Regions from separate parts of the Homo sapiens genome. Here all the other regions are linked to region 1. The links come from fine-mapping of genetic effects on gene expression. A gene starts in region 1. Each other region holds a variant in brackets. All regions are shown on one strand. Distances are between the middles of the regions.

Region 1 (4,303 bases):
TGGGAGTTACGGGTCACTGTCTTCATTCCAGACGGGCGGCTCTTTGAGTCATGGCATGCCAGCTTCTGAGTGGCTGAGGACTAGATCCAGACAAGGATTTTTCAGTCCCAAACACTCTTCCTGAAAATGCAAGAGGAGTAGTCTTTAGTCAAACAGAATCTCCACAACTGAAAAATTTATACCGGACTAGACAGTGGTAGTGGTTGCACAATATTGTTAAAGTACTACACGTCACTGCTATAAACACTTTTAAATGGGTGAAATGGTAAATTTTATGTTATGCATATTTTAACATAACAATGATAATAATTTTAACTAAGTACGTTGCCTCCTTATTTCCTACAGGGTCAAGTTCAAACTCCCTGGCATAGCTTACACCTTGTAGTCCCCATACCTGTAACCTCATGTCTGCTATCTTCCCCCAGCCCCTTCATCTGATCTATGTTCAGATCAGCTCACATTGCTCTCTATTCTCTGGACAAGCCATGTTCTTTCACTTTTCTATGCTCAAACACAATTTTGCTTTTAGTAATGATAGCAAACACTTATTTAAAGTGCTTACTGCATGCATATGTAGACATAAATCTACGGCTTAATACATGCAGGGCTTTTGAGTCATTTAATCCTCACCAATTCTATGAAGTAATAGAATTGTAATAGTAATAATAGATACTATTATTAAGCCCATTTTATACTTGAGCAAATTGAGCTAATTGCCTTAGGCAAGGTCACACAACTAAGAAGCAGCCATAATAGGGTTTGGATCTAGGTGTTCTAGCTCCTGAATCCATGCTGTTCGTCACTACACTGTACTGCCTGTGGATGACTTACTTGTCCCTGTAGTTTCATCTGAAGAATTCCTCCTCCTTTTCCTTTGAGGCCTGCCTCAAATATCACTTCCCCTGTGAAGACTGCCTGGTGTTCTCCAGGAGAGAGTGTGACTCCCTTCTCTAGGAATGGTAGCACCCCAAACACACACATTTTGCAGCATATTTCACCTTGCATGGTAATGGCCTGCTTGTGAGTTTTATTCCGTACCAGAGGGTGAGGGCTCTGAAGATAGCGCCAGGTCTTATTTACCTCGATACCCCACAACACTCATTACATGTCTGATGAATGAATGCATAGGGGGATGGCTGGGTGCATTTCTCTCAACTTTTCAATTTCTTGAAATAAATAACAAAATCTTACCTTCCCTCAGAAGTCCTGGCATGGTTCCTTTCATCTTGCCACAGCCACTGATAATCACTTTCATTTTCTGTGTAACTCACCAGGCAAGAAGTCCATGCAGATTTACTTTTAGTAGTTCACATGACAAATAAATACTGCGTTTGATTTCCAAACATTAAACCATAGTATATTATAGATAGATATAGAGTTATCATTCAAAGTATGATATTTCAATCTCAAAAGGCTTCCCCTGAAGAATATTACAAACTCTTCCTCTCTTTAAGATCTGCTGGGTAGGAAAGATGGGAGAAAATGAATTAATGTTTACACAGAAAGGAGGATAATGGGGGCAAAAATAATAGATGAACGTATGGGTGGATGAGAGAATGGATAAAATGATAGGTGGATATGTTGATCTTGGACAGATGGGAAATGAGTGGATATATCAATAAACAGATATGTGGGTGGATGGGTGGAGAAGAGGATGGTGGATGGTTGTGGTTTTATGAAGAGATGTGAAAAAGGAAGTGTGGAATGATGGATGAGAAGTTGTATGGGAAGATGAATAGAAGAATAGGTGGTTGAATAAATTAAAAGGTGTGTGGTTGGATGAATGAATGAGTGGGATGATAGATGGACCTAAGTGGTTAGTGGATGGACAGGAGGATGGATGGATGTGAGAGCCCCAGAAGGACATAAGGAAAGATGGGTGGATAGATGGATGGGCGGATGGAAGGATATTTAGGAGGATGAATGAGCATGTGTGTGGAGAGAGGTGCCCATTCACACTGGCTTGAACACATGGGTTAGCTGAGCCAAATGCCAGCCCTATGACAGGCCATCAGTAGCTTTCCCTGAGCTGTTCTGCCAAGAAGCTAAAATTCATTCAAGCCATGTGGACTTGTTATTGAGGGGAAAAAGAATGAGCTCTCCCTCTTTCCACTTGGAAGATTCACCAACTCCCCACCCCTCACTCCCCACTGTGGGCACGGAGGCACTGCGCCACCCAGGGCAAGACCTCGCCCTCTCTCCAGCTCCTCTCCCAGGATATCCAACATCCTGTGAAACCCAGAGATCTTGCTCCAGCCGGATTCAGAGAAATTTAGCGGGAAAGGAGAGGCCAAAGGCTGAACCCAATGGTGCAAGGTTTTACGGTTCGGTCATCCTCTGTCCTGACGCCGCGGGGCCAGCGGGAGAAGAAAGCCAGTGCGTCTCTGGGCGCAGGGGCCAGTGGGGCTCGGAGGCACAGGCACCCCGCGACACTCCAGGTTCCCCGACCCACGTCCCTGGCAGCCCCGATTATTTACAGCCTCAGCAGAGCACGGGGCGGGGGCAGAGGGGCCCGCCCGGGAGGGCTGCTACTTCTTAAAACCTCTGCGGGCTGCTTAGTCACAGCCCCCCTTGCTTGGGTGTGTCCTTCGCTCGCTCCCTCCCTCCGTCTTAGGTCACTGTTTTCAACCTCGAATAAAAACTGCAGCCAACTTCCGAGGCAGCCTCATTGCCCAGCGGACCCCAGCCTCTGCCAGGTTCGGTCCGCCATCCTCGTCCCGTCCTCCGCCGGCCCCTGCCCCGCGCCCAGGGATCCTCCAGCTCCTTTCGCCCGCGCCCTCCGTTCGCTCCGGACACCATGGACAAGTTTTGGTGGCACGCAGCCTGGGGACTCTGCCTCGTGCCGCTGAGCCTGGCGCAGATCGGTGAGTGCCCGCCGCAGCCTGGGCAGCAAGATGGGTGCGGGGTGCTCAGCGCGGACCCGGCGGCAGCCCCTCCGGCTGAGTCGGCCCTGGGGGACTGGAGTCAAGTGAGCTGTCTGCGAAGTGCATTGGGCTCCGGAAAGCAGGGCTGGGATTTGCGCTAAACCGTTGGAGAATGTGTCTGTGGAAGCACCATTTGGTTGAAAGAAAAAGAGAAAGAGAAGAAAGTTTGTTGGGCAGGCTGCCGGCGCGCAGTTTTGGGCGAGGTCGCTAGAGCTGCAGCACATGGCAGAAAGTAACCGTTCTCCCGGATGCGCACAGTCGTTGTCTGGACTAACAGGCTCCTGTGCCCAAGGGCTCGCCAAGCCCCACCGGGCTGTGTCTAGGCAGGGCAGAGCTGGGCGGGGCAGAGACTGGGGCTGGAACAGGGCGAGTGGCTGTTATCAAGGTGGTCACAGAAGGGATCACAATTCCAAGTGTGAGACTAGCTGGCAATGGGTTTTCCAGAAAGGGGTCCTGGGTTCTCCCAGCTCCCCACTGAGCCTTGTTCCAAAGCTTACAGTCCGCAGTGTCACTGCCACCTTAGCGCTGTGGAAGCTTGAACCAGCTCTGCGGTGAGGTCTTGGGTCTCCATGAGATTCCAGCCTGGGATAGGGAGCATGAATATGAGAGGCAACCACTGGACCAGCTGCTTGGTCCTCACCACCTCCTGCTTCTGCCAATCAGTGTGGGGAAATCTCAACAGTAAGGTGGCTTATATTCCCTGCCTGGCAGCCTCAGAGCAGAGAGAAGAGCCTTGATACCAGGGCAACATCAGGGACCCTGGAGCTAGGGCTCCAATATCTCATCCAAACAGGGTCAGTGCTTTGTGGTGGCTATGGAGGGGAGGGGCTGCGTGTAAGGTATATTCTAGCACGGCTCAACTCCAAGCATTCTCTTTCTTTGTCTATGTATGTACAGATAATTACATGGCCGATTTGCTTATCGCTGGCCAAAATTAATCTTTCTTTTAAGAAGTGCCAGCTGGGTCATTAAGACAGCTCAGCCTGCATGCAGTAAATTCTACTCAGCAAATATTTATTAACCCAGTTCCACGGGAGTACTGAGAAATTGAAACACACAGTCTCACCCAGGTAGTTTAGATTGAGTACCCAGTATAAAGTATCTTGAATTACTTTCTGCTTTCTCTATCTTCCTACTTTCTGCAGTAGGAAGAAAGTGACCCTAGGTGGAGGCTAGGCAGGATGAGTTCTCTGTGCATATGCATCTCCCTTTCTGTGTGAGTGAGAGGTCTTTGCTAGGTGGGGATTTGGGGATCTAGGATTTATACTACTGAAGCTGAAATAATAATAATAATGATAGCAACAACACAGCCTGTCATGGTGGCCCATGCCTGTAATCCTAGGACTTTGGGAGGCTGAGGCAGCAAATTACCCAAGGTC
Region 2 (4,303 bases), 91 kb after region 1:
CTTCTGCCTCAGCCTCCCAAGTGTTGGGATTACAGGCATGAGCCATTGTGCCTGGTCTCTTTTTCTTTTTTGAAACAGGGTCTCACTCTGTCACCCAGGCTGGAATGCAGTGGCACAAACACAGCTCACTGCAGCCTCGACTTCCTGGGCTCAAGTAATTCTCCCACCTCAGCCCCCAAAGTAACTAAGACTACAGGCACATGCCACCACAGCCGGCTTATCTTTGTATTTTGAATACAGACTGGGTTTTACCATGTTGCCCAGGCTGGTCACAATCTCCTGGGCTCAAGTGATCCACCCGCCTTGGCCTCCCAAAGTGCTGGGATTACAGGAGTGAACCACTGCACCTGGCCTCCAAGGCCCTTTTCTTGACCATGCATCCTGCTGGACTCCATCTGTATTCCTGGTCCCCATGAATCTGTTTCACAGTTCAAGCATCCTTCCCCCAACCCCTCATCAAGCCTTATGCTAGAGGAGACAGGATCTACCTCCTGTTGAGGAGGTATAATTTTTATTTCCCCAAACAAGAGCTTAAAGTTTATGGCCTTGGCAGTCCTACAGGGAATGGTCCATGATCATGAATAATAGAGGCTTTGTCACTATTACTCCAAATATCCAGAGGCAAAGTGAACAATTCTGACTTCATACTGTTTCCAAATCTCCAGAGGGCTGGCAGCATTGACAGAGCCAGGCAGAGCCCAGGCTTTGGTCATAAAGGCCTGGATTTGAATATTGGCTCTGTCATTCTTACTTTCTGTGTGACCTCGAGCAAGTTATTAAACCTCTTTTGGCCTCAGTTTCCATTGCTGTATTATGGGAACAATAGCTGCTTTGAAAGAGTGTTGTAAGAATTACAGAAAATTACATGTAAAATGTCTGGTATTCAGGAGGTAATCTGCTTCCCTGAATCCCCATCTTGCTTGTAGTTGTGAAGCTATGCAACTTTCCTTCCTCTAAGCATAGTCTGACTCGTATATGTGTAGTAGTGATATGTTACAGGAAAGAGGAAGCATTGCATTAGGCTGGGTGGGGTGAAGCAATGGACAGTAACCAGGGAAAAGATCAAGGTCGTACTCTTCCATAGCAACTTTCTTTTGCGTTTGGGTCTTAAGTAATGTTTGAGAAACCTTAAATTAACGAGAATAATTTGTCTTATGTTATTAAACTTCCTATATCAGGGTTGTATGAGTTAGCCAATGTTAGGAAAACATCACTATGGCCTTATACCTCTAGAAAAATGTTGTTTTATTCTTCTCGATACATTCAGTAATAATGCTGACAAGGCCGACAAAGTGTTGACTGGGAGAGGAAGTTATGGGACTTTCTGGAATATACAAATCAGAATGATTTACAATCATCATGTTGATGGTTTATCTAAATCTGCAGAAACTGCTAAAATGCTTAAAAGAGGCAAACATTTCCATTGTGAAGTAAGATAGAAAGAGAATCAGAACTTGAGAGTCAGACAGACCAGGGTTTGAATCCTCTTTCTTACTTGCTGAGTTACTTGGGGGAAGTTACTGAATTTTCTGATCCCCAAGGTTTCTTCACTTGGAATATAGAGAATATAATAATAACACCGGCTTCCTGGAGTCTTAGTTGCTGGTTTGCAAACTTGACTGTGCAGAGAAGCCCCTGAGGGGTTGCAAATTTGACTGTGCAGAGAAGCCACAGATCCTGGGCTCCAACTCTAGAGTTTTCTGATTCAGCAGGTTTGGGGTGGGGCTGAGAATTTGTATTTCTAACAGGTTCCAAGATGATGCTTTTGCTGCTGGTCCAGGGACCTCACTTTGAGGAGTGCTGGTTGTTATGAGTCTGGTTGTTAAGTGCTGGTTGTT[A/T]GTTGTTAAAGTAGAGAAAACCCCTAGCACAGTGCTTGGCACACACTAAAGCCATCATAAACCATAGTGATCATCAATGATGGTGCTCAGTAAGGATGATGATCTGATGCCTGAGTCACTGCAATCTTTCTGATATGGTACATTTTTTAAATTATTAGGTGTGGGCAGAAGAAAAAGCTAGTGATCAACAGTGGCAATGGAGCTGTGGAGGACAGAAAGCCAAGTGGACTCAACGGAGAGGCCAGCAAGTCTCAGGAAATGGTGCATTTGGTGAACAAGGAGTCGTCAGAAACTCCAGACCAGTTTATGACAGCTGATGAGACAAGGAACCTGCAGAATGTGGACATGAAGATTGGGGTGTAACACCTACACCATTATCTTGGAAAGAAACAACCGTTGGAAACATAACCATTACAGGGAGCTGGGACACTTAACAGATGCAATGTGCTACTGATTGTTTCATTGCGAATCTTTTTTAGCATAAAATTTTCTACTCTTTTTGTTTTTTGTGTTTTGTTCTTTAAAGTCAGGTCCAATTTGTAAAAACAGCATTGCTTTCTGAAATTAGGGCCCAATTAATAATCAGCAAGAATTTGATCGTTCCAGTTCCCACTTGGAGGCCTTTCATCCCTCGGGTGTGCTATGGATGGCTTCTAACAAAAACTACACATATGTATTCCTGATCGCCAACCTTTCCCCCACCAGCTAAGGACATTTCCCAGGGTTAATAGGGCCTGGTCCCTGGGAGGAAATTTGAATGGGTCCATTTTGCCCTTCCATAGCCTAATCCCTGGGCATTGCTTTCCACTGAGGTTGGGGGTTGGGGTGTACTAGTTACACATCTTCAACAGACCCCCTCTAGAAATTTTTCAGATGCTTCTGGGAGACACCCAAAGGGTGAAGCTATTTATCTGTAGTAAACTATTTATCTGTGTTTTTGAAATATTAAACCCTGGATCAGTCCTTTGATCAGTATAATTTTTTAAAGTTACTTTGTCAGAGGCACAAAAGGGTTTAAACTGATTCATAATAAATATCTGTACTTCTTCGATCTTCACCTTTTGTGCTGTGATTCTTCAGTTTCTAAACCAGCACTGTCTGGGTCCCTACAATGTATCAGGAAGAGCTGAGAATGGTAAGGAGACTCTTCTAAGTCTTCATCTCAGAGACCCTGAGTTCCCACTCAGACCCACTCAGCCAAATCTCATGGAAGACCAAGGAGGGCAGCACTGTTTTTGTTTTTTGTTTTTTGTTTTTTTTTTTTGACACTGTCCAAAGGTTTTCCATCCTGTCCTGGAATCAGAGTTGGAAGCTGAGGAGCTTCAGCCTCTTTTATGGTTTAATGGCCACCTGTTCTCTCCTGTGAAAGGCTTTGCAAAGTCACATTAAGTTTGCATGACCTGTTATCCCTGGGGCCCTATTTCATAGAGGCTGGCCCTATTAGTGATTTCCAAAAACAATATGGAAGTGCCTTTTGATGTCTTACAATAAGAGAAGAAGCCAATGGAAATGAAAGAGATTGGCAAAGGGGAAGGATGATGCCATGTAGATCCTGTTTGACATTTTTATGGCTGTATTTGTAAACTTAAACACACCAGTGTCTGTTCTTGATGCAGTTGCTATTTAGGATGAGTTAAGTGCCTGGGGAGTCCCTCAAAAGGTTAAAGGGATTCCCATCATTGGAATCTTATCACCAGATAGGCAAGTTTATGACCAAACAAGAGAGTACTGGCTTTATCCTCTAACCTCATATTTTCTCCCACTTGGCAAGTCCTTTGTGGCATTTATTCATCAGTCAGGGTGTCCGATTGGTCCTAGAACTTCCAAAGGCTGCTTGTCATAGAAGCCATTGCATCTATAAAGCAACGGCTCCTGTTAAATGGTATCTCCTTTCTGAGGCTCCTACTAAAAGTCATTTGTTACCTAAACTTATGTGCTTAACAGGCAATGCTTCTCAGACCACAAAGCAGAAAGAAGAAGAAAAGCTCCTGACTAAATCAGGGCTGGGCTTAGACAGAGTTGATCTGTAGAATATCTTTAAAGGAGAGATGTCAACTTTCTGCACTATTCCCAGCCTCTGCTCCTCCCTGTCTACCCTCTCCCCTCCCTCTCTCCCTCCACTTCACCCCACAATCTTGAAAAACTTCCTTTCTCTTCTGTGAACATCATTGGCCAGATCCATTTTCAGTGGTCTGGATTTCTTTTTATTTTCTTTTCAACTTGAAAGAAACTGGACATTAGGCCACTATGTGTTGTTACTGCCACTAGTGTTCAAGTGCCTCTTGTTTTCCCAGAGATTTCCTGGGTCTGCCAGAGGCCCAGACAGGCTCACTCAAGCTCTTTAACTGAAAAGCAACAAGCCACTCCAGGACAAGGTTCAAAATGGTTACAACAGCCTCTACCTGTCGCCCCAGGGAGAAAGGGGTAGTGATACAAGTCTCATAGCCAGAGATGGTTTTCCACTC
Region 3 (4,303 bases), 120 kb before region 1:
GATAGAGTGTGTGCATCATATTTGTTTTTTTTGTTTTTTCACAAAATTGAGTTAAATCCAGTGCTTTTGTTATTGGCTATTCTTCATGTAGCTTTCTTTAGGGTGGTTGTTTACAAAGACTTCGGCATGGTTTCACAGAGACTCATTCCAGTGGAATCCAGTTAGATGGTCCTAATGCTTTCGTTCCAGCTATGACATGTGTTTTGATTCACAGTATGCTTGGATGGACTGTGTGGATGCTTCATTCCTATGGAAGACATAATTCAGAACAGAAAACTTGTAACAGCAGCATCTTGCCTGCAAAATTATTTAAGAAAAAAAAAAAAAAGACTTTCTGGTTAATACCAAAATCTTTAACTGTCCTTTAGATAGGTACTGTTTCAAGTAATTAACCCACTGTGATTCTCAACAATGGGTCCATAATAGCCTTACCTGAACATTAACTCCTCCTATTTGCCCCCATTACTCCCAGAGATTCCAGTATTTTTTTAGTGGGGCTTTGGTGGTGGTGTGCGTGTATGTATGTATGTGTATATGTTATGTATACACATGCACATATGTGCCTTGGGTGTATGTAACTATGTATGTATATACACACATATTTTTAAACATAAATTTTTATAATATTCATTTTAAACAAAAGTATACAGATATATAATCTTAAGCACCACAGGTGAGTTTGAAGTCCAGCCATTGTTGGGAACCATGGAATCAAACACAATTTTTTAAAAGCACTTTGCTTTCATGACAAATAATACACTTAAGGATAGGAAGAGAAGGAGATGCTCACAGATACAAAGACGTTAAAAAAAAAATGCCCATGTTCATGAAGGGGCTTGCTTACAACCAATTGCTCTCTTATTTCACGGGCTCTTTTGATTTTACATAAAGTTCAGTGCTATAAAACTCTGTAAAATTTCATTATGTTTTTAAAGTCAGAGGCAGGGAAAAAGTCACCTCCAGGTGTTTAGAAAACTAAAAAAGACTGCCATTTCACTGGGCTAAGTTTGAAGCCCCGCAGATGCAAGTGCCTTGTATTCATGAGTCCACAAATAAGGAGGTGTTAATGATCAAGGTAGTGGTTGAGTGGATCCTGGTAAATACAGCTTCAATTGGAGATGGACTCAAGCAGTTCAGCATATACAGCAGACACACAAGCTGATGATAACCACTTACTATGTGCTAGGTACTGTTCTGATGCTTTGCTTACATCACCTCATGACATCTCGACAACAAGGTAGGTATTATTATCCCTGCTTTATCAATGAGAATTTCAGTCACAGACCCTTGACCACATTTGCTCAGCTAGTAGGCAGGGACTGGAACTCAAATCCGTGTGACTTCAAAGCCACGCAGCAACCACCACACCAGTCATATGCTCTGCCCTGTGGATTGGGCCATATTGAAACAATAAAGACCATCGAGCTGATGGATTTCGAACCACTTCAGAGAAATATGTAAAAGGCTTACATGCAAAAATATGTTCAGAAGACAAGCCAAAAGGCCAAGTATTCTTGTAAATGTGGCAGTGATGACTGAAGACTTTATTAAAAATATATTAAGCATGTAGATAGAGAGTGAACTGCTCATAAATCTAGGTGGTTTTGTTTACTTCTATTTTTCTGTATGTTTGAGATATTTCATTGCTGATTATTTTTGGGCAACGGGACATGGAAGAAAGTTGATAAGCTCTTCTGAATTATGACTTATTCAGGTAGTTTTGCATAAACCAGAGGGCAGATAATTGCTGATATGACCTCAACAAAGAGATAAGGTGGAGAAAGGAATGTTTGCTAATTATCTACAAAGGAAAGAGAAAGGTGAGAAATAATAAGTTACCTGATTCTCTGTGTTCTGTGCTTACTTGTTCCTCCAAAGCATTCTCCCCAGCATGTCTCTTCCAGCTTAATAACTGAAAACACTTAGTCAACAACAATACACTCTAGTGGAAAAGAGATCCTGTTAGTTTTCTAGACGATGCCTGTTGTGGGTATATTGTTTCCAAAATTATATTAGTGCTCATGAGCTGGAATCGCTGCACTTTACACACTCAAAATTATGAGACCATTTGTCCCCGGTGGTAGCTCAGTTTTTGGAGTGAACCTCAAAAGCAATCCTTGGCTAACAGAAGATTCTTCCAGATTCTAGCAATGTTTGTTCAAAGTGGGGCATAGCTGGCCAGGTGTAGTGGCTCACACCTGTAATCTCAGCACTTTGGGAGGCTGAAGCAGGCAGATCACCTGAGGTTAAGAGTTCAAGACCAGCCTGGCCAACATGGTGAAACCCTGTCTCTAGTAAAAATACAAAAAATTAGCTAGGCGTGGTGGCACACGCCTGTAATCACAGCTACTTGGGAGGCTGAGGCATGAGAATTGCTTGAACCCAGGAGGTGGAGGTTGCAGTGGGCCGAGATTGCACCACTTCACTCCAGCCTGGGTGACGGAGTGAGACTCCATCTCAAAACAAACAAAAAACAAAAAGCAAAAAAAAAAAAAAAGATGACAACAAAGTAGGGCATATCTTATTATCTTATTTACACTTACTTCCAGAGTTCACTGTAACACAGAAGGTTGTCCTTTGATTTTGACTTTTGATTCATGGAAATGTATACATGAAATTGAATTTCCTAATCTTGTGTTTCAGAACAGCTGACTTGTCTCAGGCAAGTGTGTG[C/T]GCATTATATAAGGAAGCAGTGGTCATTTATCTCATCATATATTGGACTGTGAGGCATTAATATATATGTCTTGTTCATGGGAGCCGTTGATTTTAGGAAAGCTACTTATGTAAATAAGCAGTAACAGAAGGCGCTCGGCCAAGCTTTAATGAGACATCTCAGCTCTCCCTCTGCTAAGTCAAAAAATGTACTTTGAGACTTTAATCTCCAGTAAAAGTGACAATGGAAAGAGCAATTTAAGAAACACTCCTTGCACATGTTCACAATGTTAATTTTTAAGAAATCAAAGCCATATATACAATATAATTCTACTTTTTTTAAAGTACATAAATGCAATTAATTAAATAAGACTGCAAGAATATACAAACCAGAATGCTCACAGTTGTTAACTTTCTCTTGAAGTTAACATTTCAGATGATCTTAATTTAATTTAATTTTTTTACCTTTCTGTGTTTTCAAACTTCTTTGTATTCAGCCTATATAGCTTGTTTAACAGGAGAAAAATGTAATAAATGATTAAGGGTCAGGAAAAAAGAAAAAGAAATGAATATGCACCTTCATGCTACAAACAGACCATTTCTAGTACTGGAAATGTCTGCAGCTTTATTCCTCATTTTGCAAATGAAAACCACAATACTGCCTATAATCATAGCCACTGAAGTGGTCAGGAAGAATCTTGTCAGTTCTCCAGCTTTTGCAGTGGAGTGAGTTGGATAAATTTCCTCCTCAAAGGACGTTTGGATGAGTGGAAGCTTCATTAGGAAAGAGGAGAAGCCCATAGGCAAGTCTAGAAAACCTACGTCCCATCACTGTACTGGAAGACTCATGAAGTCCGGACAAAGTGTGATACAGCCTGGTGTATGATGCTCAGTAGTGTGAATGAGATGTGTGATACAACCTGGTGTATGATGCTGAGTAGTGTGTAATGAGAGCCATGACCCAGCTCTTCCAGGACACCGTCGAGCAGACATTTGTGGGATGGTCGAAAGTCACTCAAAGAAGAGATGTCAGTAGTCACCTGGTTCAGCAGGCTCACTGGCTCCTCATCAGAATTGCCTGGGGAGTCTTTTCAAATGCACATTTCTGGTTCCCACTCTCAGAATGCTGGGTTCAGGGTTCAAAGCTCTGCAAGTGATTCACATGGACTGGTTTGTTTGTGATCTACCTTGGGAAAACTCCTTTTACAAATGAACTGAATCAACGGAATAGTTTCTTTTTCCTATTTACATTATGCCTGGTATGCTTTGCGAGTGTTGGGCCTTTGCAAGTGTCTCTTTTCAGAAATGCCATGTTTATTCCATTGCCTTTGCCCAAAACTCTGCTGGGACTCCCCCACTTTTCTTAACAGTGTTCAGAAATGGAATTCTTTTAACTGTCTTCAAAAACAGAGTGACAGCATGCTTTTGAGAGGAGAAGGAATGCTAAAATAATTTGTTATATATTTTTGAAATATTTGTCAAATGAGAAAGATTTTGTTATATTAGTGTAATGACAAAAACTATCGTATTAAAATATTTTCAAAAATAATTTCTAATAAGCCAAATTATATATCCTTGTACATTAATGTAATAAAATTTAAACGCCTATATATTGGCTATATGACCATTAAAATAATATAATCAGAAATTA
Region 4 (4,303 bases), 68 kb before region 1:
AACCAAATGAGTGATTCTGCTTCAAAGAAGATGTAGTAGATACATGTTTTCCTATTTTTTCCCTCTAAGTACAATGGAAAACTTTGGACATTATATATAAAACAAAGGTAGAAAGGCTTTAAAGGGAAGAGAAGAATGTAGATTGGCTGGGGACTTAGGGACCATGGAACAAAACAATGGTGAGTTCTCTGGGTTCCTGGGCTTTCTTTTTGCCGCAGCTATTCCAGACTTGGGAATAAGGAAGATGATAACCTAGAAATGCCAATGGGCACAGACAAAAAAAGCCACAACAAAAGACTGTTCTCTTTAGCCAAGGAACAGGAAATGAGTAGCCCAGCAAGACAGAGGACCTTTAGACCAGAACCACTCTACTCCAGTCAGACACAACAGGGAAAAACAAAACAACAACAACAAGAAAAACACTGTAGCCCCATCTCCAGTCATACCAGGAAAGGCCTAATGGGGACTCTAGATTTCTACCCTAATTAGGCCGTAATAAGGGCCGCAACACTATTTCTTACCTCCACCATTCCTCCAGGGTGGTGTCAGAAAATGCTGAATAGAAAATCAGGACTTTATTCCTGCCTGGCGAGAAGAAGTATCCACACCACAGTATCAGTGGAGACTATGTGGGAGCCTGGAGTTTTACCTCCACCCAGCAGTGAAGAGGTGCCTCTCCCTCCCTCTTTCCCCAAATAGTGTCATGTCAGAGGATGCCTAGTGCAGGGTCAGGACCTTTGTCACAGCAGTAGTGTGACTCTCCCCATGGCATCAGTGGAGGCCATGGGAGATGCGGTAATAAGGCATTCATACTCCTTCCAGCCAGGGAGGTATGAGTGGAGCCCTACTGGGGAGCTAAAACACTGACCCCCATCCAGCAGTAATGAGGAGCTTCCTTGAGTGTCCATAGAGGTTAAATGTGGAACATGAACGTCTGTCCCCACATGGCAGTAATGAGGGGTGATCCTCTTTCCCTTGCCAGAGCAATGTCAGAGGAAGCCAGTGAAAACAGAGGTTTAAATAAAATCCGGAGTCTTATAACACCACAAATGTTCAGGTTTTAATTTAAAAATCACTCGTCATACCAGGATCTCAAATGGAACAAGACAAAAACAGACAATAGATTCCCTTATCAAGATGATAGACATGTTAGAATTATCTACAATTATTTTACAGTAGCCCTCATAAAAATGCTTCAAGGGGCAATTAGTAACATACTTGGAAAAAATGTAAAACTAGAATGTCTCAGGAAAGTAATAGAAAGTCTCAGCAAAGAAATAGAAGGAATAAGTTAATAAATGGAAATTCTAGAACTGAAAAATACAATAATTGATGTAAAAACTCAGTGGATGAGCTAAACAGCAGAATAAAGAGGAAAGAGGAAATAATCAGTGAACTAGAAGAGGGAATAATAAAAATTACCCAACCTGATAGAATTTAAAAAAAAGAAACAAATTCACAATTATAGTTGAATACTGCAATATTCCTTTCTTAACAATTGATAGACTACTTAGACAAAAAATTGGCAAGGATATAGAAGAACTCAACAGAACTCAACATCATCAACCATTAGGATGGAACTGACATTTATAGTGCCCTCTACCAAACATCAGCAGAATACAAATTCTTTTCAAGTGTTTACAGAATATATCGCCAGATAAGCCATATCCTAGTGTATAAAAACAAAGCAAACAAACAAAAAAACCTCCAAAATTTAGCAAATTAAAAAGAGTTGAAATCATACTGAGTGTGTTCTCTAGCCCAAATGGAATGAAATTAAAAACAATAGAAAGTTACAGAAAATTCTCCAAACACTTGAAAACTAAATAACAAGCTTTTAAATAAACTTGGTTATTTAGAAAGAGGATCAAAAAGGACGGCTCAAGAGAATTTTTAAAAAACTGTTCACCTACCTGAATGAAAATGAAAATAAAAAGTATCAAAATTTGTGGGACACAGCCAAAGCAGTACTGAGAGGGAAATTTATAGCACTAAAAGCATACATTAGAAAAGAGAAATGTCCTCAAATCAGTCATCTAAACTCACATCTCAATAAAAAAGAACAAAAATAAATACAATGCAAGCAGAAAGAAGGAAATAATAAAGAGCATAAATTAATGAAGAGGAAAACAGAAAACAATAGAGAAAATCACTGAAACAGTTTGTTCTTTGAAAAGATCAATAAAATAGACAAACTTCTAGTAGAACTGATAAAGAAAAAAATAGAGAAGACACAAATGACTGGTATCAGGGATGAAACAAGAGAAATCTTTATAAAACCTGCAGACTTAAAAAGACAATAAGGGGCCAGGTACGGTGGCTCACGCCTGTAATCCCAGCGCTTTGGGAGGCCGAGGCAGGCAGATCACAAGGTCAGGAGATCAAGATCATCCTGGCTAACATGATGAAACCCCATCTCTACTAAAAATACAAAAAATGAGCTGGGTGTGGTGGCAGGCGCCTGTAGTCCCAGCTACTCGGGAGGCTGAGGCAGGAGAATGGCGTGAACCCGGGAGGCAGAGCTTGCAGTGAGCTAAGATCACGCCACTGCATTCCTGCCTGGGCAACAGTGCAAGACTCCATCTCAAAATAAATAAATAAATAAGACAATAAGGAAATACTATGAACAAATCTACA[T/C]ATATAAATTGAACAACTTCAATGAAATGGACCAAATTCTCAAAAAACACAAACTACCACAACTATCCAATATGAAATGGATAATTTAATAGCACTATAAATATTAAGGAAATTGAATTAGTAATTAAAATAAAAACTGTTCCTCTCAAAGAAATTTTCACACATTGATGATGATTTCACTGAAGAACCCTAACAAACATTTGAAAAAGAATAACAATAGCTTCCATAAAATAGAAAAAGTGAGGTGGGAGGACACATTCTAATTCATTTTCTGAAGCTAGTGTTACCCTGATCCAAAACAAGAGAAAGACAGCTCAAACAAAGAAGCTGCAGACCAATATCTCTCATATATATAAATACAAAAACCCTTACCAAAATATTGGCAAATAGAATTCACAGTATGTAAAAAGAATTATAGATTAGACCACATGGGATTTATTCCACAGATGCAAAGCTGTTTCAGTATTTGAAAATCTATGTAGTCTATCATATTAACAGGTTAAAAAGGAAAAATCACGTGATCATATTAAAATCATGCAGAAAAAGTATTTGATAAAATTTAATACCCATTCATGATGCTGTCAGAAAAATACAAAGAGAGGGAAACTTCTTCAACTTGATAAAGAGTAGCTACAAAATACCTGCAGCTTCCATTGTACTTAATAGTGAAAGACTGAATGCTTTACCCCTAAGATTGGGAAAGAGGCAAGGATGTCCACCCTTATTCAACATCATCTTTAGTCAACATTGTACTGTAAGTTCTAGTGAGTGCATTAAGGCAAAAACAAACAAACAAAAAAACCCCAAAAAACAGAAATAGAAGGCCTATGTATTGGAAAGGAAGAAGTAAAATCGTCCTTATGACATGAATGTATATGTAGAAAATGCGAGGGAATCTACAAAAACTTCCTAGAACTGAAAGATGAGTTCAACAAGGTTACAGGATACAGGATAAACATAGAAAGGCCATTTTGGCTGGGCATGGTGGCTCACACATGTAATCCCAGCACTCTGGGAGGCCAAGGTGGGCAGAAGGCTTTGAGCTCAGGAGTTTGAGACCAGCCTGGGCAATATAGTGAAATCCCATCTCTACAAAAATAGCCAGGTGTGGCTGCAAGCGTCTGTGGTCCCAGCTACTCTGGAGACTGAGTGGGAGGATCACTTGAGCCTAGGAGGTAGAGGTTGCAGAGGTTTCAGTGAGCTGAAATTGTGCCACTGCGACTCCAGCCTGGGTGAGATCGAGACCTTGTCTCAAAAAAAAAAAAGAAGGTAAGAAAAGAAAAAGAAAAGACAATTTTATCTCTACAAACTAGCAATGGGCATGTGGATATAAAATGTAACTATACAATATCATTTACAATTGCTAAAAAGAAGTAAAGTACTTAGGTATAAATCCAACAAAATGTTTGCAAGAAGTATATGCTGAGAACTACAAAAGCCTGGTGAAAGAAATTAAAGAAGACTTAAATAAATGGACAGACATATATTGTGTTCATGCATCAGAAAACTTAACATGGTAAAGATGTCTGTTATCCTCAAATTGACATACAGGTTTAACCCAATTCCTATCAAAGACCCTGCAAGATATATTATAAATACAGACAAGATTATTTTACAATTTATATGAAAAGGCAACATAACTAATTAAAGTAATTTTTAAAAAGAA

Which allele goes with the higher level. Positions count from the first base shown, and alleles are read on the strand shown. Sizes are in standard deviations (SD) of each study's normalised expression. Not every link is listed here.
For the expression in tibial artery of the gene that starts at base 2,665 in region 1, allele C in region 4 goes with a higher level than allele T (small effect, 0.27 SD a copy in GTEx).

What was found. PIP is the estimated chance that this variant, and not a neighbour inherited with it, causes the effect.
Region 2: its variant is the best candidate, but not a certain one, in a credible set for the expression of CD44 in whole blood (TOPMed, PIP 0.63).
Region 3: its variant is the best candidate, but not a certain one, in a credible set for the expression of CD44 in whole blood (INTERVAL, PIP 0.71).
Region 4: its variant is the best candidate, but not a certain one, in a credible set for the expression of CD44 in tibial artery (GTEx, PIP 0.58).

The regions. Positions count from the first base shown.
Region 1 is chr11:35,136,507-35,140,809 of GRCh38, forward strand. It overlaps CD44 (CD44 molecule (IN blood group)), which reads left to right and starts at 2,665. Exons shown (of 18, transcript NM_000610.4): 1 at 2,665-2,864. The coding sequence starts at 2,798. CD44-DT (CD44 divergent transcript) reads right to left here and starts at 1,526. Exons shown (of 3, transcript NR_120528.1): 1 at 1,192-1,526; 2 at 1-120. RefSeq lists enhancers at 1,830-2,394, 3,562-4,062 and a silencer at 2,305-2,374.
Region 2 is chr11:35,227,133-35,231,435 of GRCh38, forward strand. CD44 (CD44 molecule (IN blood group)) reads left to right here. Exons shown (of 18, transcript NM_000610.4): 18 at 1,997-4,303. The coding sequence ends at 2,201. Among named protein-coding and RNA genes, the nearest start is that of CD44-AS1, 14 kb to the left of the region's middle. The variant A/T (reference allele first, on the strand shown) is at 1,839.
Region 3 is chr11:35,014,372-35,018,674 of GRCh38, forward strand. It overlaps LOC105376626 (a long non-coding RNA gene), which reads right to left. Exons shown (of 4, transcript XR_001748180.2): 4 at 1-3,799. Among named protein-coding and RNA genes, the nearest start is that of MIR1343, 75 kb to the left of the region's middle. The variant C/T (reference allele first, on the strand shown) is at 2,674.
Region 4 is chr11:35,068,767-35,073,069 of GRCh38, forward strand. No RefSeq gene overlaps it. Among named protein-coding and RNA genes, the nearest start is that of CD44-DT, 67 kb to the right of the region's middle. The variant T/C (reference allele first, on the strand shown) is at 2,638.